4 linked regions of the Homo sapiens genome follow. The protein of the gene in region 4 purifies or fractionates together with the protein of the main gene of each other region. This does not show direct contact. Each region holds a gene or a part of one and is shown on either strand. Other genes may lie near its edges. The genes, in order: EDEM2, PCOLCE2, MANEA and OLFM1.

What was found.
Region 1: the proteins of OLFM1 (region 4) and EDEM2 purify together in Homo sapiens (affinity purification with mass spectrometry; 3 studies listed by BioGRID and IntAct, with this or other methods). This does not show direct contact.
Region 2: the proteins of OLFM1 (region 4) and PCOLCE2 purify together in Homo sapiens (affinity purification with mass spectrometry; 3 studies listed by BioGRID and IntAct, with this or other methods). This does not show direct contact.
Region 3: the proteins of OLFM1 (region 4) and MANEA purify together in Homo sapiens (affinity purification with mass spectrometry; 3 studies listed by BioGRID and IntAct, with this or other methods). This does not show direct contact.

What each region holds. Positions count from the first base shown.
Region 1 is NC_000020.11:35,144,318-35,152,052, reverse strand, and holds the start of EDEM2 (ER degradation-enhancing alpha-mannosidase-like protein 2 isoform 1 precursor), read left to right. Parts: upstream 1-4,716; 5' UTR 4,717-4,794; coding exon 4,795-4,901; exon of another isoform or gene 4,902-5,117; coding exon 5,118-5,228; intron 5,229-7,034; coding exon 7,035-7,074; intron 7,075-7,735. Other genes in the region: MMP24-AS1-EDEM2 (ER degradation-enhancing alpha-mannosidase-like protein 2), read left to right, coding at 5,134-5,228, 7,035-7,074. UniProt on the Homo sapiens protein: Involved in the endoplasmic reticulum-associated degradation (ERAD) pathway that targets misfolded glycoproteins for degradation in an N-glycan-dependent manner.
Region 2 is NC_000003.12:142,844,064-142,851,088, forward strand, and holds part of PCOLCE2 (procollagen C-endopeptidase enhancer 2 precursor), read right to left. Parts: intron 4,410-7,025; coding exon 4,154-4,409; intron 1-4,153. UniProt on the Homo sapiens protein: Binds to the C-terminal propeptide of types I and II procollagens and may enhance the cleavage of that propeptide by BMP1.
Region 3 is NC_000006.12:95,594,512-95,601,536, forward strand, and holds part of MANEA (glycoprotein endo-alpha-1,2-mannosidase), read left to right. Parts: intron 1-2,225; coding exon 2,226-2,335; intron 2,336-7,025.
Region 4 is NC_000009.12:135,083,802-135,090,682, reverse strand, and holds the start of OLFM1 (noelin isoform 4 precursor), read right to left. Parts: upstream 3,016-6,881; 5' UTR 2,694-3,015; coding exon 2,544-2,693; intron 489-2,543; coding exon 339-488; intron 1-338. UniProt on the Homo sapiens protein: Contributes to the regulation of axonal growth in the embryonic and adult central nervous system by inhibiting interactions between RTN4R and LINGO1. Inhibits RTN4R-mediated axon growth cone collapse.

The sequences.
Region 1 (7,735 bases), on a different chromosome or scaffold from region 4:
GACATACTGCATGCAAAGTTCAAGCATTTCTACAAAGCAACAGATGGATGGGAAATTTCCCAGGGATAAACTTATTTTTTGGCAAGTCAAAAGTATGTATTGTGCAAGCCCTGCTTTGGGAGTTGGGAGAACCAAATGACCTCCAGATGCTACAAAAAGGATTCTTCCCTGCTAAAAGAGGTCGAGTGTACTTGGCCAAAGGGGATCTAAAATGCCTTGGCTTCCAACTTCAGGGAACTGAGCTTTTCCCTCTAACTTTCTAGCAAAAGGGAAGGAAATGTTGACCCTAAAACCACATGAAGCTAAAGCTAGAGGACACTGTAGCAGTTCGCCAGATCTCCATTGTTGAATTCTGTGTTGGCCTTTTATTTATATATTTGTCATTATTTTCATTAATGCGTTAGAGTATAGGCTGTTTGGGTCCATATCTTGACTCTTCTACTTATTCGGTATGAGACATTGATTAAGTTGCTAAATCTTTCTTCAATTCTTAGAATCTGTGCTTCAGGTTTTTGGTTTATAAAATGGTGATAATGACACTTTCTCAGAGGGTTGTGGTAAGGATTAATGGTGTTGATGGATGTAAAGTACAAAGAACATTACTTGCTATGTAAATGTTCGCTATTATCAATACACGTGACTATTTTCTCCTTCTTCTTCTTGTCCCCCTCCCCATCCCCCTCCTCTTCCTTGTTTAGTTGGCAAATAGTCAAATTCCATTTGGAATGCTGTCCCACTGTTTTATTCTGCTTCATGGATGTTTCTGGGGGAAATTTGTGCAGTCGATGTGTGTTGAATTCTGTTTTCTGATTTTTTGCAATAACTGTATGGATCTGTTAATATTTTCCTTGTGCTGAGAGATAGTCTCACTCTTTCATCTTCCAGATATGGAAACTGAGTCCCCAAAAGGGAAAATGACTTGCCCGAGATCACACAGAGATAGTGGATAAACAAGTAACAAGACCAAGGGTTTCCGACAACCAGTCCAAGTCTTGTTCCACTGAACACAGAGTCCGAGGACATTGGCCTCAGATACTGATGTGATCTGAGCTCCCTCCAAACTCTATTCACCCACAGGGAAGACTTGAACACCCTATGATTCCAAGTATTCTCCAATTGACATCTTCCCCTTCTAACAAAATTGCAAGCACTTCAAGGGAAAGGACTATGACTTGATTATTTTGGAATCTTAGTTATATGCTCAGCACTGTGCCTCAAACTTTTGAGGGTAGGAACTATTGCCTATAACACCTTGGATGACTCGGGGCAGATGCTCAGTAAATGGAAACAACTGCCCTGCCTTAAAAAAAAAAGAAGAGTTGGGGAGGCAGGGAAGAGAATTAATATGTATCAAGAATTTAATATATACCAGTCACTGTGCTGAGAATGTTCACTTTCATTATCCCATTTAATTCCCAGAATTCCTTTATGGCCTCATCAATTTCTGTATTTTACAATAGGAAATTGAGTCTCAGAGAGGTAGGCAACTTACCCTGAGTCTCTTCACAAGTAAATGCTCAAGTGTGACACTTCACTGGTGGGTCATAACCTTCTAGAATCCAATATCATAAACACAGAGTGAGAGAAAGAAGAGTCCTGATACTTTCCAGAGGGTAAAACAATTTTTTTATTCTCATTAGAGAACATATAGTCACATGAATTGTGAAAACGTAAGTCATGGTTTTATTTGTTCAGTGACAGTGTGGAGAATGACATCAAGCTAGAAAAAGAATATAAAGGAAAATCATGAGTGTTTCAATCTTGCTCATAAAGAGAGACCTATCGTTACCAAATCCAGGCAACCTGAACCCACCCTTCCTGCAAAAGTTTTATCCACACTAGAATTTTGAATGGGAGACAAAAAGATAAGCTATAGGATTTATAATATGGAGAAGGTGAATTTCGTCACAGGGAAAGGCCCAGGTCTGAAAAATATTTAGTCCCTGCGCTAGGCTGGAAACAGCCACCTAAAGTCCAGGTCCTAATCTCTGGAAACTGTAAATGTTTCTCTATTTGGAAAAATGGTGTTTTTTTTTTTTTTTCCCCCTAGATGTGATTAAGTTAAAAATCTTGGAATGGGAGTTTATCCTGTATTATCTGGGTTGGGGGGGGCGCGGGGGGGGTCCTAAATGCAATTATAAATGTCCTTATAAGAGAAAAGCAGAAGGAGATGTGACACATCCACAGAGAAGGCGATATGAAGGCACGGGCAGATACTGGAGTGATACAACCATAAGCCAAGGAATGCCAGCAGTCAGGAGAATCTAGAGAGGCAAGGAACGGATTATCCCTTAGAGCCTTTGGAGTGGGTGTGGCCCTGTCAATAACTTAATTTTAGCCCAGTGAAATTGATTTCAGGCTCCTGACCTCCCAAACTGCGAGAGAATAAATTTCTGTTGCTTTAAGCCACTTGGTTTGTGGTAATTTGTTGCAGGAATCACAGGAAACGAATACAGTGCTCCTGTGTTGTTATCCAGGTCTCAGCTTACTGTCATCTCCTTTCCCTTCCATTTGGAAGCCCCAAGAAGAGTTTCTTTTTTTTTTTTTTTTTTGAGACAGAGTATCGCTCTGTCTCCCAGGCTGGAGTGCAGTGGCCTGATCTTGATCTTGGCTCACTACAACCTCCACCTCCCGGGTTCAAGCGATTCTCCTGCCTCAGCCTCCTGAGTAGCTGGGACTACAGGCGTCTGCCACCACTCCCGGCCAATTTTTGTATTTTTAGTAGAGACAGGGTTTCACCATATTGGCCAGGTTGGTCTTGAACTCCTGACCTCGTGATCCGCCCGCCTTGGCCTCCCAAAGTGCTGGGATTACAGGCGTGAGCCACTGCACCCGGCCAAGAAGAGTTTCTAAAAACATCCCAGGCTGGGTACAGTGGCTTATGCCTGTAATCCCAGCACTTTGGGAGGCCTGGCTGCACTCTGGCTCAACAAACTGAGCTATCACTTCCATCTGACTTTTTCAGCAAATAAGAGATAGCCAATCCTAGAATCATAGAAAGCTCGACCGAAAAGGATCTTAAAGATCCATTTGTTCAAACTCCTCATTATTTATAGACAAGGATGCTAGCCCCAGAGAAGGAGAGGGTCACATACACAGGTTATAGATGAGTGACAGAGTTGTAATTAACTGGATCCTAGATCTGACTTCAAATCCAGTGTTGGTTCTACCGCATGTCACACTGACCAAAGTCATGGGTGTTGCTGTGGTCTAAGGTGCTGACCAAATTTTAGAAACTTGGGAATAAGGGGAATGGAGAAATGGATCACAAACCTCCTGAAAGCTATAGTGCCCCAGGGTAGTCATTTGTCTTTTTTTTTTTTTTTTTTTTTTTTTTTTTGATATGGAGTTTTGCTGTTTTGCCCAGGCTGGAGTGGAGTGGCGCGATCCTCGCTCACTGCAACCTCCGCCTTCCGGTTTCAAGCGATTCTCCGGCCTCAGCCTTCCGAGTAGCCGGGATTTACAGGCACCCGCCACCACCCCTGGCTAATTTTTGTATTTTTAGTAAAGACGGGGTTTCACCATGTTGGCCAGGTTGGTCTCTATCTCTTAACCTCAGGTGATCCACGCACCTCAACCTCCCAAAGTGTTGGGATTACAGGCGTGAGCCACCGCGCCCAACCAGGGTATTCATTCTTACCCAAGACATTCTACAGGGCTGACAGGGGTAAAGCTTCCGGTTTGAGATGGAGACTGAAGGGACCATGATTGTGTAACCACATCCCAAATTGGGAGGAGAGAAGTGTCATGAATTCCTAGAACTGACGGGATTTCAGGAAACCTCAAGAGTGACAGCATCGGAAAATGCAAGAGGTTTTAAAAAAAAAAGAGTGGAAGTTTTGGACAAATAAATGTGAGTTGTGTCTTATACAATCAACAAGTAACTGGTTTGGGAAACTCAATATCCCTAAATAAGGGAGCAGACCACCCCTCATATTGTCTTATGCCCAATTTCTGCCTCAAAGAAAATGTAGGAGTTAAAAGAAAGACAGAAGTGAAATCAGTAGTCAGACAGCCCGGCGATGCATTCCAGGCCTGGTAATTAAAGATCGACCCCTCCTGACCTAACCGGTTATATTATCTATAGATTCCAGACATTGTATGGAAAAGCATTGTGAAAATCCCTGTCCTGTTCTGTTCCGTTCTGATTACCGGTGCACCGGTAATCAGTCACGTACCCCCTGCTTGCTCAATCAATCACGACCCTCTCACGCGGACCCCCTTAGAGTTGTAAGCTCTTAAAAGGGACAGGAATTGCTCACTCGGGGAGCTCCGTTTTTGAGAAGTGAGTCAGCTGACGCTCCCGGCCGAATAAAGCTCCTTCCTTCTTTAACCCGGTGTCTGAGGAGTTTTGTCTGCGGCTTGTCCTGCTAGGTAATAATGGTAAAGGCTGAACATTTCTCATGCTTACCCTGCCTTCATACTTAATAAGGTTGTTGAAAAAAATGAATGAGAGAATGCATTTTAAATGCTCCGTACAGTACTAGTACACAATAAGTGCTCAATACATGCTAGCTGTTATTATTAAAACATTAATTAATAACAGTAGTAACAACAGCCACTGACTTTAAGACACGTTGATCAGTGTTGCCGAAACCGTACATCCGAAGTTGCTCTTCGGCCGCGTTTCGCTGCCCATTGCATTCAGGGGCTTGTAGTCCGGAAGTGAGAGGCTGATTTCTCAGCGCGCAGGCGCAGTGGCGCGGATTCCCGGAAGAACCCGCAGCAGCTCCCAGGATGAACTGGTTGCAGTGGCTGCTGCTGCTGCGGGGGCGCTGAGAGGACACGAGCTCTATGCCTTTCCGGCTGCTCATCCCGCTCGGCCTCCTGTGCGCGCTGCTGCCTCAGCACCATGGTGCGCCAGGTCCCGACGGCTCCGCGCCAGATCCCGCCCACTACAGGTGAACTGTGACCCGCCCTTTCGCAGTTGGGGAATGGGAAGCGTGAACCCGGTCCTTTCCCTTTCCGTCCATCCCAGACCCCGACTTGCTCCGACACAGCCGCTAGGTCCCAGGGAGAAATCAGCTAGTGATTCCCACTTTCCGCCCTGTATCTTGTTCTTCCCCCGCTTGTTTTTGTGTTCTTGCCCCATGCCTGATTTCTCGTCCCCCACCCAGGGAGCGAGTCAAGGCCATGTTCTACCACGCCTACGACAGCTACCTGGAGAATGCCTTTCCCTTCGATGAGCTGCGACCTCTCACCTGTGACGGGCACGACACCTGGGGCAGGTAGTGCGAGCGGAGGGGCAAGGGGCGGCCAGGGTCTGACTCTCTGGGCCTCGGCGGGCGGGTCAGCTGGGGCTGGTGGCTTCATGGTCTCCTCACCGGCACCAGAAAGCTCCCAGCTGAGCTAGAGCCGCGCTCCCCGCAATTCTTACTATCACCTCCAGGATCCACTTAGCCTCTCGCAGTGAAAAAAAAAGTCCTGGATTAGCCGGGTGGGCTGGATCGCTGAGCTCAGCCCCAGCAGTAACAGGCATCAGCTGTGGGGACATAGGCAATTTCTGGAGTAACGAGATACCGTGGAAGGGCTCCAAGAATTAGAAAACCCACCCCTTTCATTATGTAGGTGGGCATTCAGATCCAGGAAGGAGTGTGACACTCCTAAAACTTAAGTCTTTGTAGTTGGTGTGCCCCGTGCCTGAAATACACTCCCCATTTTCCTCCCATCACTGGCTGCTGCTTGTCATTCAGATCTCAGCTCAGTATCTTAATACCCCTACGAGTTAGGTGCCATTATCCCTGTTTTACACACGAATGTGCTAAGGTCGGGAGAAATTAAACTCAAAACTTGTGATGGTTTTTATTTTTTTAAGTTGAAACAAAGTAAATACAAATGGCAAATTCAAGTGGTAAAAGATTATATACAATAAATATCTCCCATACCCTAGAATTCCAACTATTAACTTTCCTTTGTATCTGTCCAGAAATATTCTTGGTTTATACCATTATATATATAGATGTGTGTATGTGTATCTTTTTAAAATGAACTTCTTAAAGGCATAATTTACATATAATAAAATACACTCTTTTTTTTTTTTTTTTTTTTTTGAGATGGAGTTTCGCTCTTGTTACCCAGGCTGGAGTGCAATGGCGTGATCTTGGCTCACTTCAAACTCCGCCTCCTGGCTTCAAGCGATTCTCCTGCCTCAGCCTCCCAAGTAGTTGGGATTACAGGAGCCCACCACCACACCCGGCTAATTTTTTTGTGGAGACGGGGTTTTGTCATTTGGCCAGGCTGGTCTTGAACTCCTGACCTCAGGTGATCCACCCACCTAGGCCTCCCAAAGTGCTGGCGGATTACAGGCATGAGCCACTGTGCCCAGCCTACACTCGTTTGAAGTGACCACCATCACAGTCAAGATATGAAACACTTCTGTCACTTTAAAAAGTTCCCTTGTGGCCCTTTATAGTTCATCCCTGCACCACCACTGACCCTAACAATTGCTGTCTGCTTTCTGTCAGCATGTCTTTTTGAAACAGATGGAAACATACTAAACCACCCTGACTTTTTCATTAAAAACAATTCGAATGTCTTTCCATCAGCACATAGAAGTCTTGATAACAATCTTTTTGATAACTCATAGTTTTGCACTGTTTATAACACAGTTTAATCACCCATTAATGGGTGGACAGTTGGGTTCTTTCCAGCCTCTTGCTGTTCTAAGCAATACTGCCATGAACACTCTCAAACAGCTGTTCACTGTGAATTAAATTCCTAGAGGTGAAAATTGGTGAAAGGCCTGTGCTTTAAGCTGCAATCTTATACTGCCTCCCAATGGTAGAGGAGAATGCCAGACTATAGGTGATGTATTTAATTACAATTGAGCTACATCAGCCAACCCTCCCAGGTGCATTAAGTGGGTCAGAGAATACCTGCGATTTTCACTGTGGTTTCTCTGTTGTGACTGTAAGTGGGACAGGCAGAGGCATTACTTTGCCTCATTTAGTTTTAGGGGGATCAGATCTAGGGCAGCCATAATATCTGGTATTTGATTTTCTTACTAAGCGGCTGGGATTTCTGTCCTTTTGCAGTTTTTCTCTGACTCTAATTGATGCACTGGACACCTTGCTGGTAAGTATCTCGTCTGTTTCTTTTCCTTTCCACTGTTACATAACCAACATCCTTCCTCTTTTGGCAGCGTGACTGTGGGTGAAAAATGAATTCCTCTCCTAGGCCTTTTATTTGCATCTCATGATTCTGAAGCGTCCGGCTGTGGTTGCCTAGCTAGATAGGGGAAAAACGAACTACAACTTATGCAGATTCATTTATTTAGCAAACATTTATAGAGGACCTGTTATGTACGGAGAATTGTGATAGGCTTGCATAGCTCTATGGGGGATACAGAGACTTTGACATCTCCTGTTTTCAGAGGCTTACATTCTAGTGGCCATGTTCAATGATAATAAAAGGGTATCAGGCTGAGCATGGTGGCTCACACCTGTAATCCCAGCACTTTGGAAGGCCGAGGCAGGCAGATCACCTGAGGTCAGGGGTTTGAGACCAGCCTGGCCAATATGGTGAAACTCCATCTCTATTAAAATACAAAAAATTAGCCCAGCATAGTGGCACATGTCTGTTATCCCAGCTACTGGAGAGGCTGAGGCAGGAGAATTGCCTGAACCCGGGAGGCGGAGGTTGCAGTGAGCCGAGATTGCACCATTGCACTCCAGCCTGGGTGACAAGAGTGAAACTTCATCTCAAAAAAAATTATAAAGAAATAATATCAGTGACT
Region 2 (7,025 bases), on a different chromosome or scaffold from region 4:
TTTTATTATTATTATTTTACAGGTTTTGGGGAGAGAAATTCACATACTCTGAAATGCACAAATCTTAGCTGTACAAATCTGAAAAATGGATATACCTGTGTAAACCACACTCCTATGATGATATAGAATCCATTTCCCACTAAATTTGTGCATCTCTTCCCATCCTGCCAGTTCTCTACACTACTTTTCTGAAAAACTTCCCATTAGATGAGTTTAATTTTAGAGCTCCATATAAATTTGTTTACCCATTCTCCTGCTGATGGGTGGTTTCTAGTCTGGACTATTGTGAATGAAGCTGCTATGAACAGTTTTGTACACATTTGTTTGTACATGTATCTTCATTTCTCTTATATAAATACCCAGGACTGCAACTGCTGGGCCAAGAGTCGATGTAAATATTTAACTTCATAAAAAACTACTGGAACTTTTCTCCAAGTGGTTTTACACCTCTCTCGAGTATGAACACTTCGGTTGCTTTACATCTTTGCTACCACTTGGTGGTGTCAGTTTTTCTAGCCAACATGGTGGGTAAGTAATGGCATCTCACTGTAATTTTAATTTGCATTTCCCTGATGACTAATGAGAGATACTGAGTAGTTTTTCATGCACTTATTGGCCATTCATATTTTCCTCTGTGAAGTGTCCAAGTGTTTTGCCAATTTTTATACTTACTGGAATCTTTACCTTTTTATCGTTGAGTTGTATGAGTTCTTTGTATATTCTGAATACAAGTTCTTCACCAGACATTTTTGTGAATATTTTCTCCCCTTCTGTAGGCTATTTGTATTTGTAACCATGTCTTTTTATAAGTATTAGTTTTAATTTTAATGAAGTTTTGTATTTTTCCTTTTACTTTCAACCAACTTGGTCTTTGTATTTCAAGTGCTTTCTTGTAGACAACATATAGTTGGGTCTGGCTTTTCAATCCATTCTAACAATAACTGTCTTCTAATCAGAGTATTTAATAATTTACATTTAATATATTTATTGATCTTCTTGGATTTAATGTGCCATTTACTACTTTTTTCTATTTGCTTTACCTTTCTTTTATTCCATCTGTTTTTCCTTATAGCCTTCTTTGGGTTAGTTGGATAATTTTAGTATTCTATTTTAATCTTTTGGCTTTTAGTGATAACTCCTGCATTTTTAATGGGTTCTCTAGGGATTATAATATGCATGTTTAAGTTATCAAAATTTACTTAGAGTTAATATTGTACTTCACGTGTTGTATATGTATGTGCAACAGTGTAATTACATTTATGTGTCCATCCTTTGGTTGTCAAACATATTACATCATACACTATATATTCCACAACACAGTGCTAAGGTTTTTTTGTTTTGAACAGATACATGTAAAGAAATTAAGAGAAGAAAAGAAAATAACATATACCCTTTTATATTTACTATTTCCAATGACCTTCATTCCTTCTGTTACTTTCATTTTACAAGGTCATTTACCTCAACCTGAGGAATTCTCTTCAATATTTCTACCAGTGTAAGTATAAAAATGCCTTTCAGAGATTTTTAGTGTTTATCTGAAAATGTCTTCATTTTACTTACATTCTTGAAGGCTGGCTATAGAATAGAGGTTGACAGTTTTATTCCAGCGCTTTAAAAATACTGTGACAGGCCAGGGGCGGTGGCTCACACCTGTAATCCTAACACTTTGGGAGGCCGAGGTGGGCAGATCAACCTGAGGTCAGGAGTTCGAAACCAGCCTGGCCAACATGGTGAAACACCGTCTCTACTAAAAATAGAAAAATTAGCCAGGCATGGTGGCGCATGCCTGTAATCCCAGCTGCTTGAGAGGTTGAGGCACAAAAATCGCTTGAACCTGGGAGGTGGAGGTTGCAGTGGGCCGAGATAGCACCACTGCACTCCAGCCTGGTCAACAAGAGTGAAACTCAGTCTCAAAAAAAATACTATGACACTGCCTTCTGGCTTCCAGTGTTTCTGAGGAAATGGAAGCCATCATTCTTATCACTCTTCTTCTGTATGGAATTTAGTTTCATCTGATTGATTTCAAGATTTTCTCTGTCTTTAAATTTCTGTAATTTAATTATAATGTGCATGGGGGTGCTTCATTTTTATTTGTCCTGTGGAGTTTGTTGACCCTCTTGACTCTATTTTTCTTATTTTCATTATTTATTTTTTAGATGGAATCTCGCTCTGTTGCCCAGGTTGGAGGGCAGTGGCGCAATCTCGGCTCCCTGCAACCTCTGCCTGCAGGTTCAAGCGATTCTCCTGCCTCGGCCTCCCGAGTAGCTGGGATTACATGAGTGCACCACCATGCCTGGCTAATTTTTTTGTATTTTTAGCAGAGACGGGGTGTCACCATGTTGGCCAGGCTGGTCTTGAACTCCTGATCTCAGGTGATCTGCCTGCCTTGGCCTCCCAAAGTGCTGGGATTACAGGCATGAGCCACTACGCTCAGCCCCTCTTGACTCTGTGAGTTGATATTTTTCACTGTATTTGAGCAGAGTCAAGTCATAATATCTTTAAATATTTTTTCACTTTATTATCACTTTCTGGGACAAAAATTACAGATGTTAGACCACTTGATATTGTCTCACTGGTTTCTCGAGCTCTTTTTCTTCAATCTTTTTCCTCCTTTTTCTTCAGATTGAGTAATTTCTATTTAAGTTCACTGACTCTTTTTTTCTGCCATCTCCCATCTACCTGTGAGTACAATAGGTAAATTTTAAAATTTCAGATCCTGTTTCTTTTATCTCTAGAATTATTAATTTATTTTTTAATAGTTCCTGTTTCTCTTCTGAGATTCTCAATTTGTTTATTTATTATGCACATATTTCCCTTTATAAATCCTGAAACAAACATGTAATAGCAGCTTTAAAGTACTTGTTTGCTAATTGCAACATGTGAGTTACCTTGAGATCAGTTCTTATTGACTGCTTTTGTCCTTGAATAGGGACACACTTTTCCTGTTTCATTACATAACTACAGACTGGACATTATGCATGATACATTATACTCTAGATTCTGTTGTGTTCTGATAAAAATAATTTTGTTCTAGCAGGCATTTAACTTGGCTAGACTCAAACTTAAAGTCTGTTTCCCTGGCAGCAGGCAGCAGCTGTAATCTCTTTTCAGTTCTTTCATTTTTCAGCTGATGCTTTTGTGCCAGGCCAACTGGGCTCTCCTCCACATATGTAGAGTTTAGCTGTCAGACAAAGATTTCAGTAGATTTTATACGAATATTTTGTGCCTCAATTCTGTAACTCCCTGCCTGGATTTCCTCCCCAACATTCTGGCTGCTCTTTCAGCCCCAGATTCTGTCCTCTGACCTTTCAAGTAAAAATGTTGCACTACAGTCCAATCCAAAAGCAGATTATGGACTGCTCTTGGGTAAAAGGCTGAAAACATACAAATATTGCCCACTGCAGTGATCTTTCAAAAGTAGAGATTTCTACGCTTGGGAGCTCACTATATCTCATATATCTGTGTGTGTGTATATATATATTTGTTGTTGTTTGAGACAGGGTCTCAACAACACCCAGGCTGCAGCACAGTGGCATGATCACGGTCACTGCAGCAGTGACCTCCCTGGGCTCAGGTGATTCTCCTACCTCAGCCTCCCAAGTAGCTGGGACAACAGGTGTGTGCCACCACACCCAGATAATTTTTGTATTTTTTGTAGAGATGGGGTTTCACCATTTTGCCCAGGCTGGTCTTGAATTTCTGAGCTCAAGAGATCCACCTGCCCTTGGTCCCCCAGTGTTGGGATTACAGGCATGAGCCACCATGCCTGGGCTCCACTTTTATTTTTTAAAAGCTATTGTATAAGTACTCAAATAAAAGCAAGCACACATAGAAAGGTATGGGAACCACTGGCCATGGCTATTTCTGGAGAATGGACTATGGAGTGGTGAAGGGGTGTGTTTGCATATTTGCATGTGTGCTTATGTATGTAAGCTCCACATTTTTACTCTATGAATTTCTATACTTGATTTACAAGAATGCATGTGGACTTAAATTAAAAGGCTGATTTTTTGTATTGGTCTCATCATGGTTTGATGGCATTCACTAGCTCTTTGAGAACCACTCTTAAGCTTTAAAGGAGTAAATAAACATCAAGTGCCAAGAACAGTGAACCAACATTACTGTTGTTATTGCCATTATGTGGAAACAGTACCTCTTTCGTTTGGTTCAGCAGCGGAGAACATGGCCATGAAGCCATTGCCAGCTGTGTTGGCATCAGAAATCATCTGCACCATCATCTTGTTGCCACTGGACACAAGGGCTCCAGGCCGGAAAGTGCCACAGAAGCGGCCAATGCGCTGGCCATTGGCATGGCCATTGTACACATCCACAAAGTCATAGCGGCACAGGTTGTCACTCTCGAGGTCTATGAATCGGAAATTGAGAACGACTACTTTTCCTTCGGGAACCTGCCAAGAAAAGCGCCAATTAGAAAACTGTCATGAAAACAATATCTGAGGCTTTGACATCTAGTCACTTACTTAAGTGTGTAAAGTATAATATCCAAGATAATGCTTTTTCCTCTCTCATATCTGAACTAACCCAAGGGAAGTTTTCTAGCATATTGCATTCCTAAAAAATTTAAGTACTTATTTTCTTTTGACAAATTCTGCAATTCTCCAGGATTCACAATCTTATTCCTTAAGAACTTACCTCAACAAAGCTGCAAAATATTAGGTCAGTATTATTAATAGATGAGTCATTGCTTAGAATGAATACCAGTCCTGATTGGACCTTAGCATATATTTGCATATTCTAATACCTAGAGATATTGCTTAGCAAAGAAACATTTAAAAATATCATTTCTTGGCCAGGCACAGTGGCTCACATCTGTAATCCCAGCACTTTGGGAGGCCGAGGTGGGCGGATCACAAGGTCAGGAGATCGAGACCATCCTGGCTAACACAGTGAAACCCCGTCTCTACTAAAAATACAAAAGATTAGCCGGGTGTGGTGGGGGGCGCCTGTAGTCCCAGCTACTCGGGAGGCTGAGGCAGGAGAATGGCGTGAACCCGGGAGGCGGAGCTTGCAGTGAGCCGAGATCGCGCCACTGCACTCCAGCCTGGGTGACAGAGCGAGACTCCACCTCAAAAAAAAAAAAATCATTTCTTACAAATAATACAGTAGGACGCATTCAATGCCTGTGTATAGAATGTTTCTATGAAGTTCAAAATAGAGGATTTATTTGGCAATTGTGTAGTTAATTTACAGATAATTCATTTTGGGTCCTGAAACATCCAGATGAACTACCGATACTGACTAAATGAACTGAGTAATTGCTGAATCATCTCTTCTGAATGTCACTAAGTTTTTTGCTCATTTGTTTTCCAGGTGAAGACTTTATATGTCAGGAAGCCTTGAGACACAATGCGCTAATGAAGAAAAAGATAAGCTTTCATTTTATCATAATATTTTATTCATCATAATTTCCCCATAAAATTCTTAATGATGGTTCCTTCCTTATTCCCTGAGTAGGTAGAAAAAATGGCTATAAAAGCATTTGGTAGGATTCTCAGGTTACCAAAGCCCCATTTCTTTCCCAGTTCATACCACCTTTTAATTTCTTCATTCAAGTTGTTCAGTCATAAAGTCTTGATCATAATTGTTTTACTCCTTTAATCAGATGAGGTCTCCACTGAATAGTGGAGAATTCCATTCTGTAAAAACTTACATATAACAAAACTCAGTGATTAAAAAAATCAAACACACACAATCAAAAGTGGTTGGTTTATATTCATCTTAATTAACTATTTCAGACTCAAGGGTCAATAGATGCTTTGACATTAATACGGCTTCCCCATGTTGGTAAGTACAGTGCCATACGTTTTATTTTCCTATGGTAAGATGAAGTGTTTTCAGTGCTATTTGCTTTTTGTGTCAAACACATCTACACTTCATCGTAGAAATTATAATGGCGTAGTTCCCAAAAGGGACATGTTTGGATTTGCCATCGTTGCATTCTAATTCCTAGAAGCTTGTCTCAGTGGTGTGAATATCAGAGTTCCAAAGAACTTAGAACAGCTTAAGAAGCTAATAACAGAAAGAACAATTTAAATTTTAAACATTATCACCAAGATGTCTGTTGTAAAACTTCCTGTCTTTTGCTTTGTTTTTTGTTTTGCACACAACCTCTATTTGTACAATAATCAGAAAGTTATCAAAATATGATGCCACATCTGTAATCTTAAATATAAGCAGGCTCTCTATGAATCACCGAAAAAGTCCTAGCCATGAAAAGAATCTCAAACTAATTTGTTTTTTTCCTGCATGAATAGTGACTATTTGTATAAATGTATAGAGGGTAATTCAAAGCTACGAAACTTGATGAAGTCACTCCCAGAGTGAATGTGGATAGAAAAAGGAAGAGGTCTAAGTATAGAGGCCTGGAACACTCCAATGTCATCAAGTCTGTGAAGAGGTCAAACCACAATAGAGACTGAGTCAACAAGTAGGAGGCAACCAAAGTGTGTGGCGTCTGGAAGCCAGGCGAAGAGAGTATGTCAAGGAGGAATGAATGGGCAACTGAGTTAAGTGCTGCTGCTGAGAAAGACCAGTGGATTTAGCAACACAGAAGTTTAGCAACCAGAAGTCACTGGTAATGCTGACAAAGCTGTTCTGGTGGCACCATGGGGAGAAAACTGGATAAAAGGATCATGAGAAAATGGGGTGAGAGGAAATGGTGACAATAAATATAAACAAGCTTTTCAAGGAGTTTTGCTGTGAAGATGAACAGAATAATATGGGGGTAAGGAAGGGGATATGGGGTCTAAGCAGAGTTTTTGCAATGGGTGTTTCCTAAGGCATGTTTGCATGCTGATGGGAAGGATTCTGTAGAGAGGGCAAAACTGATGAAGCAAGAGAGAGGGAGGATTGCTTAACAGATGTCCTTGAGCAGGCAAAGGGGGATCTGATCTACAGAAGGAACAGCTGGTGGAGTTGGCCTTAGTAGGAGCAGGGACAGTTTTGCCCAATGACAGAAGGGAAGACAGATGTAGGTAGGTCAGTAAATGAGGTGGTGAAAGCAT
Region 3 (7,025 bases), on a different chromosome or scaffold from region 4:
GTGTGTGTAATGGCGATACCTGAAGTTGTTGCATGTTGCTGTTGTCTTGTTTCTGCCAATTCTTGTGCATGGTGTTTTATTCTTTGTGTTCTTAATTATCTTTGATTGTATACTATTTATTGTTCTTTATGAAATACTTTTTGTAAATAATTTGAGGCCCAGGAAGAAGATGCCTTCCTCCAGAAAGGATTTTCTTTTGCTTCTGCCTGGTGACTGTTTAGAATACCATTTCTGGTTACCTTAAATTAGGTCTAAAGCTAGAGGATTGTACAAGCATTGTGAACCTGCAGTTTAATTCACTGCTTTTGAGAGTTGGTTTACTTGTACCAATTTTGCTTGGGGCAAACAGACCTCCTTGCTCACTTATCTTTCTGGTTTCACATTTTCCCTTCAATTTGGCCAGGACATTTCTTACTCTCTTCAGCTCTTTAAGACATTTTCTCCCCGTGTTTTATATAATAATAATGGTTATTTTCATGGAGAGTGCTTGGTTTACTATTAGACCAACTGTTATTTTAGACTAGTCTGCTATTATTAGAAACAGGAATCTTGTTTTGTTTTTACTTTTATGGAAGAATGTTTTGCTTATAATTTTCATGTGATTCATAGCATAATCTTTCTGTTGTTTAATATTTTTTCTTATTTTGTTCCTTTCATTTTCTGCATAAAATAATTTTTTCGTAGGTCCCATGTTGAGAAAACTTTTTGTTGTCATTCTTATTTTCATTGGTGATATTCTTCTTATAAGCTGGGCTAGTAATCTTACAAGATTGTAAGTGATCGCTTATAAAATGTTGGATTGTCTCCAGACACTTTTCTCACCAGCATTTCTCTCTAGGATATGCCTTCCTCTGGCTAGCCAGTTTCCCTAAAGCCTCATATGTTATAGGTTATTTTTTCTATGTTTCGTTCTAGTTGCCATTCTTATTTTCAGAGTGGATAGGGGACATAAGGATTATTTTTCCATTAACTTTGATTTTGTTGTCCTAGATGGGACTTACTTATTTGTACATGGCGGCTAGCACAAAACTTAGGTCTTAAAATTTAGTTCTCCAGCAGTTTCTTACCTTCAATTTCTTAATTTCCATATGCTTCTCTTTTGGTACCATTATTATTTATTTCTCTGCCTTAAAGAGTCTGTTTATTTATCTAGAAATTTGTGCAATCTTTCTAATGACTGTCCATTTCTTTGTATACGTAATGAGGCTTTGAATTAATTCATCTTAAATATTCCGTCTCCAGTTAGTGATTTTCATGTAATTTATGCTTCTAACACATAATTTATCAGTTCAAAAATAAGTAGGCAGGCACTACAGAGAGGAACAGTAATTATTTTACTATGTTAGAATCTTCTGTTAAAAGGTATTGATCTACACAAAAACAGCATATAAATGTTTATAGCAGTTTTACTCATAATGGGCAAAAATTGGAAGCAACCAAGATGTCCTTCATTAGGTGAATGTATAAAATAAATACAATGGCATATTATGCAGCAGTAAAAAGAAATGAGCTATCAAGTTATGAAAAGGTATGAAGGAACCTAAAAATTCAAGTTGCTAAATGAATGAAGCCAGTTCTAAAAAGCTACATACTTTGTAATTCCAACTATATGACCTTCTGGAAAAGGCAAAATTATAGGCAGCAAAAAGCTTAGTTATTGGCAGGGGTGAGGGGGAGAGGGAACGGGGATGAATCAGTATAGCACAGGAGGTTTATAGAGCTGGTAAAACTAGTTTTTCAGCTACTCTAATGGAGAGCATATGGTATAATAGATTTGTCAAAACCTGTCGAACTGTACAACACAAAGTGTCAACCCTGATGTAAACTATGGACTTTAGTGAATAAAAATCTTTCAATATTGGGTCATCAATTGTAGCAAATGAAAGATGTTAATTATAGGAGAAACCGTGTGGAGGGTTGGGGCAGGTAGGAGGAAGAGTATATGAGAACTCCATATTTTCTTTGCTATTTTTATGTAAACCTAAAACTTACTCTAAAATGTAAAGTCTGTTCACTTTTACAAAAGCTTATTAATGCCTGATAAAGAGGTCATAAATATTGACAAAGTGATCAAATAGCCATATGTATTCTGAAGGAACTTAACAAAACCACCTCGTATAAATATGTTCTTCTATTGTTAACTCTTTGGTACTTACTGTGCCTTTTTAAGAATATCTGCATTCATGTTCTTGTCTTTTCCCTTTCTTTTTGGTCTTTTCTATTAGGTGTACTAGCCCTCTCTTGGTACCCACCTGATGTAAATGATGAAAATGGAGAACCTACTGATAACTTGGTACCCACTATTTTGGATAAAGCTCATAAATATAACCTAAAGGTATTTTATTTTATTTTCAAGCTATACATAAGTTAATTCTTTTGGACAAGAGGAGAGTAATAACAATTTTTGAAATAGTAATTTTAATTAAAAATGATAATGACTTAGAATCTTTTAAATACTATATTTCATAAAGAAAATTTCTATAATAGGAATTTCAATCTTATCTAAATTATATTTTAGAGATTCTTTACTATGTTTCTAATGTTTTATTTTTTTATAGTAGAAAGGGATTGAAAGGTTCTTTTGTGAAGATAATATAGTAGTGAAGATTTATATGTCTAAATATCTTAGATGTCAAAAATCTAAAAACAAGTATTAACCATGTAACTTTGCATATTTATAAAGTAGTTAAAAAATAAACTTGCTCAAATATTTTTCAAAATCCAATTTTCATTTAAACCTTATTTAATGTGCATACACATACACACCTGAGTAAATATAGAATACAGCAGAAAGATCAAGTATATTTGATGCAGAAATTAATGTGTGTTGCAAATGAGGGAACACTTCTGACAGTCTTAAGATTTTATTTCTTTTAGAAATTAATGAATCATGGAAACAAATAGGAGTGATGATTAAAAGTATTTAAATAGCACTACAAAAGAAAATTTTATACTGAATAGCAAGTAAATAAGCACTGTTTTTAATATCCAAAGATACATTTTAAAAATTGGTCATGTATTAGGTAGCAACATTAATTCTAATAAATTCATAAAAATTATAACCATAGAGTCTGCATTCTCTGACCACATTCAGTACCATGGAATGTTAATAATTAAGTCCAAACCATTTAGAAAGTATAAAATTATTAAAATTTTAATAACATAATTGAGAATAACTCTGAAATTTAAGTGATATAAATAGCACTGAGATTATTGCATTATCAATACCAATGGGACCTAAATAATAAGACATAGTAGAAGAAAGAACTATGATAGATGAAGTGTGAAATTAATTAAATAGTATACAAGTCCTTCAAAATCAGTAGTCTGGATAAATTAATCTTTACTATTGTCCACTTTTGGGGAAAAAACAATAGGCAAGCCATTGGTGAGATTAAAAAAGAAAAGAAATTGAGAAAACATATCAGCAAAAATTGAAAAGAAATATACCTATAGTTTCAGAAGAGAGTTTAAGATTTTATATCAGTCTATTTAAAATTTATATGGTAGTTTTATAGGAAAATACTAAAATTAATTTTTTTTGGTGCAGAAAGAGGTTTAAAGAATCTGAATTGACTATCCTAGAAAAAAACGTATAAAAGATAATTGAACAAATGTCTTCCCCAAAGTGTCAGGTTTACCTCTCAGTTGTATTCAGAATAGTTGATTTTTATGATAACTGAAATACAGTGTCAAGTATACTCACTATCTATTGCTGCATAACAAATTATTCCAAAACTTGGTAGCTTAAAACAATAAACATTTGTTACCTCACACAATTTCTAAGGGTCAAGCATCTGGAAGTGGCTTATTTGGGAGTGTCTGGTTCAGGGTCTCTGAAGGAGGTTACAGGCAAGCTATTGGCTGGTGCTGTAGTCATCTGAGGCTAGAGGATCCACTAACAGACTTTCTCATGTGGTGGATGACAGACCTCAGTTCTTTGCAGCAGGTGAACTGGAGACTCTGTACTTCTATATATGGGCCTCCAGCTTCACTAGAGTGAAAGATCTGAGAGAGAGTCTAATATAGGGGCTACAGGGTTGTTTTTGTTTGTTTTGTTTTTTGACATAAATCTTGGCAATGACGTGTTAATACTTCTGTCCCATTCTGTTGTTTTATCTACGGATAAAACAACCATGGCACAATGTGGGAGGGAACTGCAAAGTTATGAATACCAGGAGATGGGTATCGGGGGGCCATCTTGAAGAATGGCAACCACAGAAAACTTCCAAATTTATTCCACAATAGCACAATTTTTATTTAAAACTAAGAAAGGATAGAACAAGAAAGAGACAGACTAATCTTACCAATGAAAATAGATTCAAAATTCCTAGAGGGAATTTTGAGAAGAAGTGTTTATTAGCAAGGATTTAAGAATGGTTCCAATCATATGAAATCTGAATCTAAATTCAGGTCTGCATTCAATCCTGGCTCAACCACCTTGTAGCTTTATAAATGACTTGTGTCTCAGCTTCTTCATCTCTAAAATAGAAATAGCAACAAAACCTTCCTTACACACAGAATGGTTATAAAGATTATATTAGATAATATATGTAAAACATAGATTGCTGTCTGGCACAGAGTAAGCACTAAGTAAATAAAACTTCATTGATTATTTAAAGAAGGTAAAACATGGTTATCTTAAGAGATACTGAAAATTTTAGGAAATAAAAATTCATTGTTAATGAAGTCCTTAGTAACCAAAGTTCTTTAGCTTGATAAAGGGTGTCTCTTAGTATCTTATTTCAAACACTATATCTGATGGATATACTACACCTGTAGTCCCAGCTACTACTCAGGAGGCTGAGGCATGAGAATTGCTTGAACCTGGGAGGCAGAGATTGCAGTGAGCTGAGATTGGTGCCACTGCACTCCAGCCTGGGCGACAGAGTGAGAGTCTATCTCAAAAAAAAAAAAAAAAGTGATGTAGGTTCTTTTAACTAGAGACCACTCTGAGATTGCAACCACTCTTAAAATTTGCTGAAGCTTTTTATTTGCTCTGTAACTTCTTGCAGTTATATTCTAATGGAGGACAATCTGGTTTGTCCAATACTGGTAATTGAGCCCTGTAAGATATGTTATGGACCACTGTTGAAATATTTCGTTTCAAATAAAAATGTGAAACATTAGTTTTGTCTTAATTTTCCTTTTGCAGCCTAGAGATTGAGTAGTTATTGGAGAATAGAAATGGAACTGTAGGGAGTGAGAAAGAGCTAAATAGGCAAGCATTTTTTTATTTCTGTCCATAAAGCTGCCTCTTCTTTCTGATTTACTATCCTGAAACTGTTAAGACAGCATCTCTCAAATTAGCTGTCTAGCAAGAGCTGTCACCTGCCATGTCCCTTGGTGCCTTTCAGTGAGTTCTTATTGGCATTTGAAATCTGCAAATAGGCAAGCCTCCAGGTTCTGGTGCCCAGGCTGAGGTTGGGTAAGTGATTGATTTATCTTCCACAAAACAAGCCCAAGAGCTGCTTTTCTGTCCAGGCCCTGCCAAAATCCTGGAAGATGGAAGCTCAAGAAACTGGCTATTTTAGTACTTTCAGGAAGTTTTGAAAGAGAAAATGAAAATGTTATGATATATGAGGATTGGTTGGCTTTTTCTCCTGTTTAAAGTGTCTGTGTAGAGAAGGAGAGTGTGGCAAAGAGCTCGACCACTAATTGCCTATTTAATGTTGCCAGCATACTTGATCTCTCTGTGCTAGGGATTTTATATCTAATGATCAGAAAAACTTGGAACACGATAGACTAATGTTTTCCAAAATTTTTAGAACAGTTTCTTGGCCTCGTGTATGGTGAGGAACTATGTATAGACAAAGAATAGACCTGGAATCATGAGACTGGAGCTTGTTCTAACTGAGTAGCTCTGGAATCTTATATTAGTTCCTTGATCTTCTTGGCTTATCCCCTTCATTTGTACAATGACAATGAAACCATAAGATAGTTTTATTGGATTTGTCTATGATTTCTGTTGTTGTGGAACAGACATTTTTCCTAACTCAATAAAATGCAGTAAATCCTGTTTTTTTAAAGAATGGAAAACTTTCCCTTTTCTTGCTAATATAAGGAAATTTTAATATGTTTAATGAATGACAGTACCTTACTAGAATTATTCAGTGTGCTAAGGCAATCTGATAGGAAAAGATTAATGATGTTGTAGATTGTGTGCTGACAAATTGGAGCCTCCAATGCACATAACTGACCACATCTAAAACTTTTAAGTGTAAAATGCGTTCATTAGTAACATCTCTTTTTTCTTGCTAGTCTTCAAAGCATGGAAATACTAAATGGATGGAGAATTTTTAGGGAATGAATCCGTCTCACAGTTAAACTTTTGTTATAGTTCATTCATTTTGATTATATAATGTTTTTACTAATATTAGTCATTAAATATTTTGTAATTGTAATTTTGATTTGTTAACTTCAACCAAGAGTTATTTTAAGTAAGTGCCTTTTAAATTATAAACAAACATGCAAGAAAAGGAAATGATTGGTGCTTTAGTTATTTTTCATTATCTTTAGCAAATGTGACTAGGTTTTTTTTTGGAAGTGTAAATGAGTGAAACTAAAATTTAAATCTTGATTTTTCAAAGCGATTTAGTTTCTGTTCTTTTAAAGTATACTTGTCTGCATGTTTGCTAGAGCAAAGGCTGTTGCACTTATAACTGTCATTTAGTAGGCTGGTTTTGCAGAGAGTGTAAAAATCAGGGCTGGATTCCTTCCTCTATATCCTGCACCATTAAGAACACAGCAACGGAACAATTTTTTGAGTAAGACATGACAGAAATATTTGGTAGATTCCGTCATTGTTTAGCAAATAATCTGGTTTTCCTTCCCCTGCATGCAAAGAGTAAGTATACTTCCTGCCCTGTTGTTGTTGGGTTTGGCCTTATGGCTTGCTTTGGCTGATGAGATGTGAGAAGAGATAATGTATACTATGTGCTTGCATGATTATGCTCTTATTCTCTTTTATAAGAAAAGCATGCCCCTTTCTGCCTAGGACTCAGAATGACAGACACGTGGAGCTG
Region 4 (6,881 bases):
TCACCATGCCCATGTGACTTCTCAGTGGAGCCTGTGGTGACAGGGGGCAGGTCTAGTCCTCTCTTCCTGGACCACCCTTGGAAGTCTCAATCCACCTGTGTGTCCACCCACCCATCCACCCATCCGTCCATCCATCCACCCACCCATCCACCCATCCGTCCATCCACCCTTTCACTCATTCACAAATATTTTGAGTGGAGACAAACCAGGAAAGAGTCAAAATGGGGCCTGCAAGCTAGCCAAGCCTTGGTGCTGGTGTGAGCACACAGGCATGTACACACACACACACACACACAAACACACACACATACAAACTCACACACTCTGCGCAGACTCACCTTCTCCAGTAGCTGCCTCAGCTGTTTTGTGCGGGCATCCCGTGAACACATGGTCTGCTGTGGAGCGACCACTGTGCAGATACACCTGCCCTCGCTGTCCTGGGCAGAGCTGTACACCTGCCAGCTCTCCTCAGGGTTGGTGGGCAGCACCTGGAGAGGGGCGGGGCGGGAAGGGAGAGGGAAGGAGAGAAAGGGAGACCATGAGGTTGTGTATCAGAGCCAACAACCAGGGGAAACTGTCCACATCCACCCCCAAGGAAAAGATGGGAGGAAATGGTCCCAAGACATGTTTGACCCAAAGGGAAGAAAGGGTCCCTGGGAACAAAGAGGCACAGGTCTCCTGTTAGGGGGCTCAGGGCTGGAAGGATGTCAAAGAGGCAAGACCCTTTACGTTCTTAAAATTTAAGTTCAACTCAAGGGATGTCTGGAGTTTGTCGTCTGGCCAAATTGATCTGCTGGGTGGATGGGAGGGGCAACTGGAGGCCACAGGCTGGACTAGGAGCAAGGCAGGAAAGCAAACGCTGGGTGGCTTGCAGCGGGCACGTATTTCAGAAACAGGATATCCTTCCCGTAAGTCAAGCACGGGTGGCTGGCACCACCAAGCCTCGCCCTGCCGTTCCCTGACACTTGCAGACGAAGCACCCACTGTAACAGCCCCAGATCCAGCAGCCTATTCGCCCAGAGCTGTGATGAACCCCGAGCTACAGCAACCTCCCAGCCGGCAGCGTGGCACAGACCGACCCGAGAAAACACTAGGTTTCCAGCTCCTTGTGGGCTCCCCCCACGAGCCATTTGGTGGAGGTCGCCAAATTGCTGGTGACATGCTGTGCAGGGGTCACCCCCAACCTCAGTCCTGAGGTTTGCCCAAAGATCACCAAAGAAACCGGAGCTGCCCATGTCTGGTCTAACCTTGCAGCCCAGCCCTGCCAGGTACCGGGGCGGGCACTCCTGAGCCTACACAGCTCCATCCTGCTGCTGGCCCTACTGTCTCTGAGCACGCTCCCCTCCGGTGGCATCAGGTCATCTCTCTGCTATTTTTAGCATGAAGATGGGGAGGAGAAGTTGGGCGGGTAGAATCTATAGTAGTCATATCTTTAATCTCATTCATTCCCAACCCCAGAAGATCGGGACCGGCAGGCCGGAACAAAGTCATCATGGAGGAATCGCCCTCCGATTCCTGAAGGAGCAGGGAGGGCGGCCTCAAGAGGGGTCTTAGGAGGGAGCCACACCACGGAGCCCTCTTCGCAGGGCACTAAACCCCTGGCAGCAAAAAGAGAGAGGGAGGGAGACTCACGTCCTTCACCTCTCCTTTCAGCCTAAAGGGCCAGTGGTCTGGGGCGCGCCTTCCCGGCAGCGGCCCCTTCCCCGCGCGGCCCTCCGGGTGGCGGTTTCAGCTCAGCCTCGCTCAGCCATCTAAGTCAGCTCTGCCCAGAAGCAGCCCCGGCCACGGTTCCCCTCCCGCTAGGCTCGAGAGGGAGACGCGATTTCAATTTCAGAGGCCAGGAGGGAGGGGTGCGCGCAGAAGACGAAGGCAAAGGCGAGGGGGTGAGCGCCCAAGGGCAGGCTCCCAGGGGCCCCACCCAAGCCCCTCGGCACCGTCCTCGGAGGAGAAGGAACAAACCCTCCTATGGACTGGGGAGGAAAGGGCGCCTTGGGACTTTGGGAATGCAGGCGCGGGCAGGAGCTCCGGAGCCCACCGGCTGGGGCCCCACTCCCAGCCCGGTCCGGCCAGTCTGGCTTTTACAAACTAGGGCGGGCTCAGTCCCCGCTGGACCGAGCCCAGACTAGGGTCTAGCGGCGGCTCCACCCCTCACTCGCTGAGTGTGACCTTGGACAAGTCCCCAAGTCCCCAGCCTTAGTTTCCTAACCTTTTCAATGGGGGGCTCATGATTACTGACCCAGGACTCCAAGCCTCCGAGAACCCACCAAGCTCCCCCGGCCCCGCGGCGAGGGGCCCAGACGAAGGAAACGCCGCCCCAGGGGCGCGCGGGCGGAGATGGAGTGGCCCAGGCTGGGGGAGCGGGGAGCAGGGTCGCCACCGCTGCGCCGGCCCGCGACGCCTGCCCTTGCCCGCCCTGCTCCCCGCCGCCTCCCTGGGCGACTCGGGTCCCGCGCGGCGCCCGCCCAGCCCGGGGCTCCGGACCGAGGAGGGGGAGGAGGAGGAGGAGGAGGAGCCGCGCCAAGGCGGCCGGCGGGCGCACTTACGCCGGTGCTGCGGTCCAGCGTCCCGCCGCCGGCCGCCGAGAGCTTGGTGGTGTTGAGGCCCACCAGCGAGGGCAGCGTCTGGGACATCCAGTTAGTGATCATGGCCATGGTGCTCAGCACGACCCCGATCTTGAGCAGCGGCACCGACATCGCGCCTCGAGCTGCCTCCAGCGCCCGCTCCGAGCTGGCACCGGCTCCCGCGCCCAGGCGGCCTTCAGGCGGCGGGCACCGCGGCGGGCAGGGGCGCCTGGCTGTGTCCCCGCGCCCCCTCGGCCCGCCGCCGCCCGCCCGCCGCCGCCGCCGCCCCGCGCGCCCCGGCCATCGCCGCGCCTTCCCCGGGCGCCAGGGAAGGTGGCCAGGTGGCCTCTGCCCGCCGCGCCCTGCGCCTCGCGCCGCCCGCCCTGCGCCCTGCCTTGCCCGGCTGCGTCCCTCCGGGCTCCTCCGCCGCCACCGGGAAGCGCCGTCCGGCTCTGAGCGCTGCGCGGGCTGCGCGCGGGGGCCGCGGCCGGGAGGCGGGGCTCGGCCGGGCGGGACCGACGCAATCCGCCCAGGAAATGGGTGGATTTTTCCTCTCGCTCGGCTCCCCGCCGCCCCCTGGCTGCTGGCAGCGAGGTCTGCAAACTCCAGTCCGCCCAGGAGTTGGGATCAGGGTGACATGAGGAGACGGACACACCACCACCCCCAGATCATAAAATACCCGGCGGCGGCGCGGGGACTCCAGCTGGGGGCACGGCCCGCGGCCCTCCCGTCCCGGGGCTTCTCCCATCCTCACGCCGGGGCATCCCTCTCCGATCCCCGCAGAGGGTCCGCTTTGGGGCAAAGGTTGCCGGCAGAGAGACGGCGCCGTCCTGCCTACTGGAGCCCTTTTCCGCGGTGATTCGAGGGTCCCAGCCAGCCTGGGCCGTCGCCTGAAACCCAGCAGGCAGGGCAGGCTCCGAAAAGCAGCCAGACTCGCGAGGGCCTCCAGCGCCAGGGGGGCGTCGGGGCATCGGTGGAGAGCTAAAGGCGCCCCTGCGATCCCAGGGCAGCCGCGGTGCCCTAAGGCCTTGCTTGGGAGGAAGGGAGCCAACCGGCACTCCTGACACCTGCACAGCAAGGCGGGGGCTGGGGTGGTCTGCCGTGGCCCGCGGTGCGCAGTGAGGGCCCTGGGAGGGCGCACACCCGGCAGGAGCTGCATAAGGTCTGGGGCTCAGGCCTGGACCTCAGGAGCTGAAGGGACCACGCCCATGAACCTGGTGTTGGGGAGGTGGGTGTGTGGGGCGGGGACTGGGGTCTGTGGTGGAGGGGTGTGGGTTGGGGGGTGTCCTTACTGACTCAGGGGTGGCGCTCGAGTCATGGCGCCCAGGCACAGAGGCAGGGCAAGTGGCGCACGCTGCCCCTCTTCCCGGCCCTCTGCGGCGACCGCAGCAGGACTCACGCGTGTCAGTCCCACCTGAAGCGCAGGCCTGACTGGGTCAAACACGTTAATAGGGCTTTTGCATTTACAGAAGGCTTCTAATCGGAGATGAAAGCCACTTCCTCCGGGGCCTTCCATTAAGCTTTCCCAGCCATTTGGGAAGGAAAGAATCCTCCAGATCACTCACTACACTCTTCTCTGCCTGGGCGAAAATTAATCTCCCTTCCTGGATGGGATTTGAAAGACGGACGCCGGGCCGGAAGGAGCGCGCCTCCCTGGCGCCCGCCTGAGAGGAACAACGCCTTCCTGGGGCTTTTCTCTCTGTGTGCGCAGTCCTCGGCTGAAGAGACTTCAGCTGCAGCCAAGATGATCCTGGCCTGAGTGCTGGGTGTGAGACCCGCTAGTTAAATGAGCCCCTCAGATCTGCTTTTCTGATTAATGCTGTAATCTCAGGCAGCCGGGCTGGGTCGGATGCCAGGAAATTCCAACTGTTGGGGAAGGGCGCCATCTCCCAGTGTAAGCTGGGACTGCAGGCCCGGCTCACAGACTGGGCCCAGGCGGAGACACAAGTCCGGTTGGGCTGGCTTCGCCCCCCTCCTCTGGCCATGCATGTTTAACACCGATTCAAGGCCACAAGCCGTGTCTGTCCAGATCACTCACGCCGCTTCCCGCTGCGGAAGGACAAGGACCACTTGTTCTGCGGGAACAAATTCAAATGCAACCCAATCCAATCCACAAAACTGTCAGGCCATCTCAGAAGCCATAGACATTTATTTATTTAACGAAGTAAAAGATTAACCTGCACTTGGACTGCTCTAACCTGCACCTGAGCGGCTCCAACCTGCACCTGAGCGGCTCCAACCTGCACCTGCTCCAAACTGTCCTGTCCAGTTTCTAAAATCTGTGATTCAGTGGGCATAATGGTTTTGAAAGGGTCGTCAGATAAGGCTTGAGTAAGTGTAATTGGATTTAGAAGGCCATGGAGCATTCCAGAAGGAAAGTATGGATCGTTGAAGAATGAAGGCATTTGGATTAGGGGATCCATGGCGCCAGGCAATACCAAGTGTTCCTAAAGAGGACTTTCAATCCCAATTTCTTCACGACTTCTCTTAAAGCCAGGGCTCATCACACCTGCAGCTCTGAACAATCATACGGATGCTGATGGGGCAGGTGCTGCGCCCCTGGTGGCACTGGGGCTTTGCCATGCCTGGCACCCAATCCTTACTGAAGTGCATGGTGTGGTGGCATTGACTCCACTGTATAGATGAGGAATCTCAGGCCTAGAAAGATGATAAGACCTGTCCAAGGTCATATGGTGACAGCCTATTTCCAGGGCTAAGCCCATACACATGGTGGCATCCTCGTCTTATAAATGTCATGGCCATAGTTAAATCTCACGAGCCCCAGAAGTGGCATGAGTTGCATGGCCACAGCAGCCCTGGCTGTCCGCACAGTTCCACGAGCCACAGAGGCCGCCAGAAGACATTTCATGGGCCCTTGCCTTCCACGCTCGTGGGAAGGACAGGAGGTTGCCCACCCCTTTCTGAGTCCTGGCACGAGCCTGCACCACCCTCCCTGTCATGACAGGTTAGAACAGCCACGTCTCTATCCTCATGCCAGCCCCCTACAGGCCTTGACCTTGGTGGACTCTGTACAAATTCATCAACACACATAAAAACAAGCACACCCCCTCTGCATCTCCCGGCTTCAGAGCTCAGAAGACGCAAGTGTGAGAGGGTGCTCCTGCCCAGCTTGCTATAGACCTTACAAGAGGCGGACACACGTGGGCTATTGGGGAATCACCTCGAGAAGCCCTAGGACAGCCACATGGTGAGCTGATAGGGCACAGACGACACCAACACCCACAGTCAGACGACCACTGACACCCACAGTCAGAACAGTGAGGTCCGCAGGATGCAAACCTACTCAGGTCCCAGAGCCAGGAGTGGCTGCTTGGAGGGAAGCAGGTCTCTGGGCCACTTCCCGATGCTCCTTGGCAAAGGATGCCCTCAAGGGACAAAGTTTGGATGCCCGGTTGCTGTTTAAAAATACGCATACTCTCCTCAGGCTATTGGCAAATATCTTGAAGGGAAACAAGGGGAGGGGAGGAAGAAAGGGAGGGAGAAGGGGAGAAGAAGAGAGAGAGAGAGAGACAAAGGCAGAGAGACAGAAAGACAAAGAAACAGAGAGGAGACAGAGAGGAAGACAAAGAAATGGAGAGAGAGACAGAGAGAGAGGAGAGAGAAGAGAGGAGAAACAGAGAGAGGAGAGACAGAGAGAAGAGAGACAGAGAGGAGAGATAATAGAGACAGAGAGGAGAGACAGAAGAGAGACAGAGAGGAGAGATAATAGAGACAGAGAGGAGAGAGAGAAGAGACGGAGAGAGGAGAGACAGAGAGAGAGATGAGAGACAGAGAGAGAAGAGAGAGAGAGAAGAAAGATAGAGTGACACAGAGAGAGAAGAGACACAGAGAGAGGTCCCACATGGAGCCACCTCTCCTTTTTCTACGTTGTATGTAGCTTTTTCATTCCCTTTCTGTGCTGGAACATTCCAGGAGCAAGGAAAGGACCTGGCCTCAAGCCAGGCAGAATGGGAGGAGCCACAGGTCCCCTGGGCACTCCCTCTCGGCAGCCACAGAAGACCAGCATGGGTCTTCTGAGCCAAGTGTTCCCTGTACTCCCCTCCTCTGAGGCCTCTGGGTTCACACATGGGTGGAGGCGTAACTGCTCCTCACCCCCTTCCCTGGAGAGGATTTCCATCCTGGCCCGGCTCCCTGTGCCTGGCAGCACCTCCCATAAGCTGACAGTCTCCCAAACACCACCTGCATCAGGCGTGGCTGTGTGACCTGCGATTTTGGCCCCGGGAGGGAGAACGGCTAAGGGCCACGACTGAGCAGCTTTCAGAGCCAAATGTCTCAGTCACACCCTGTCTCTCTGCCTCT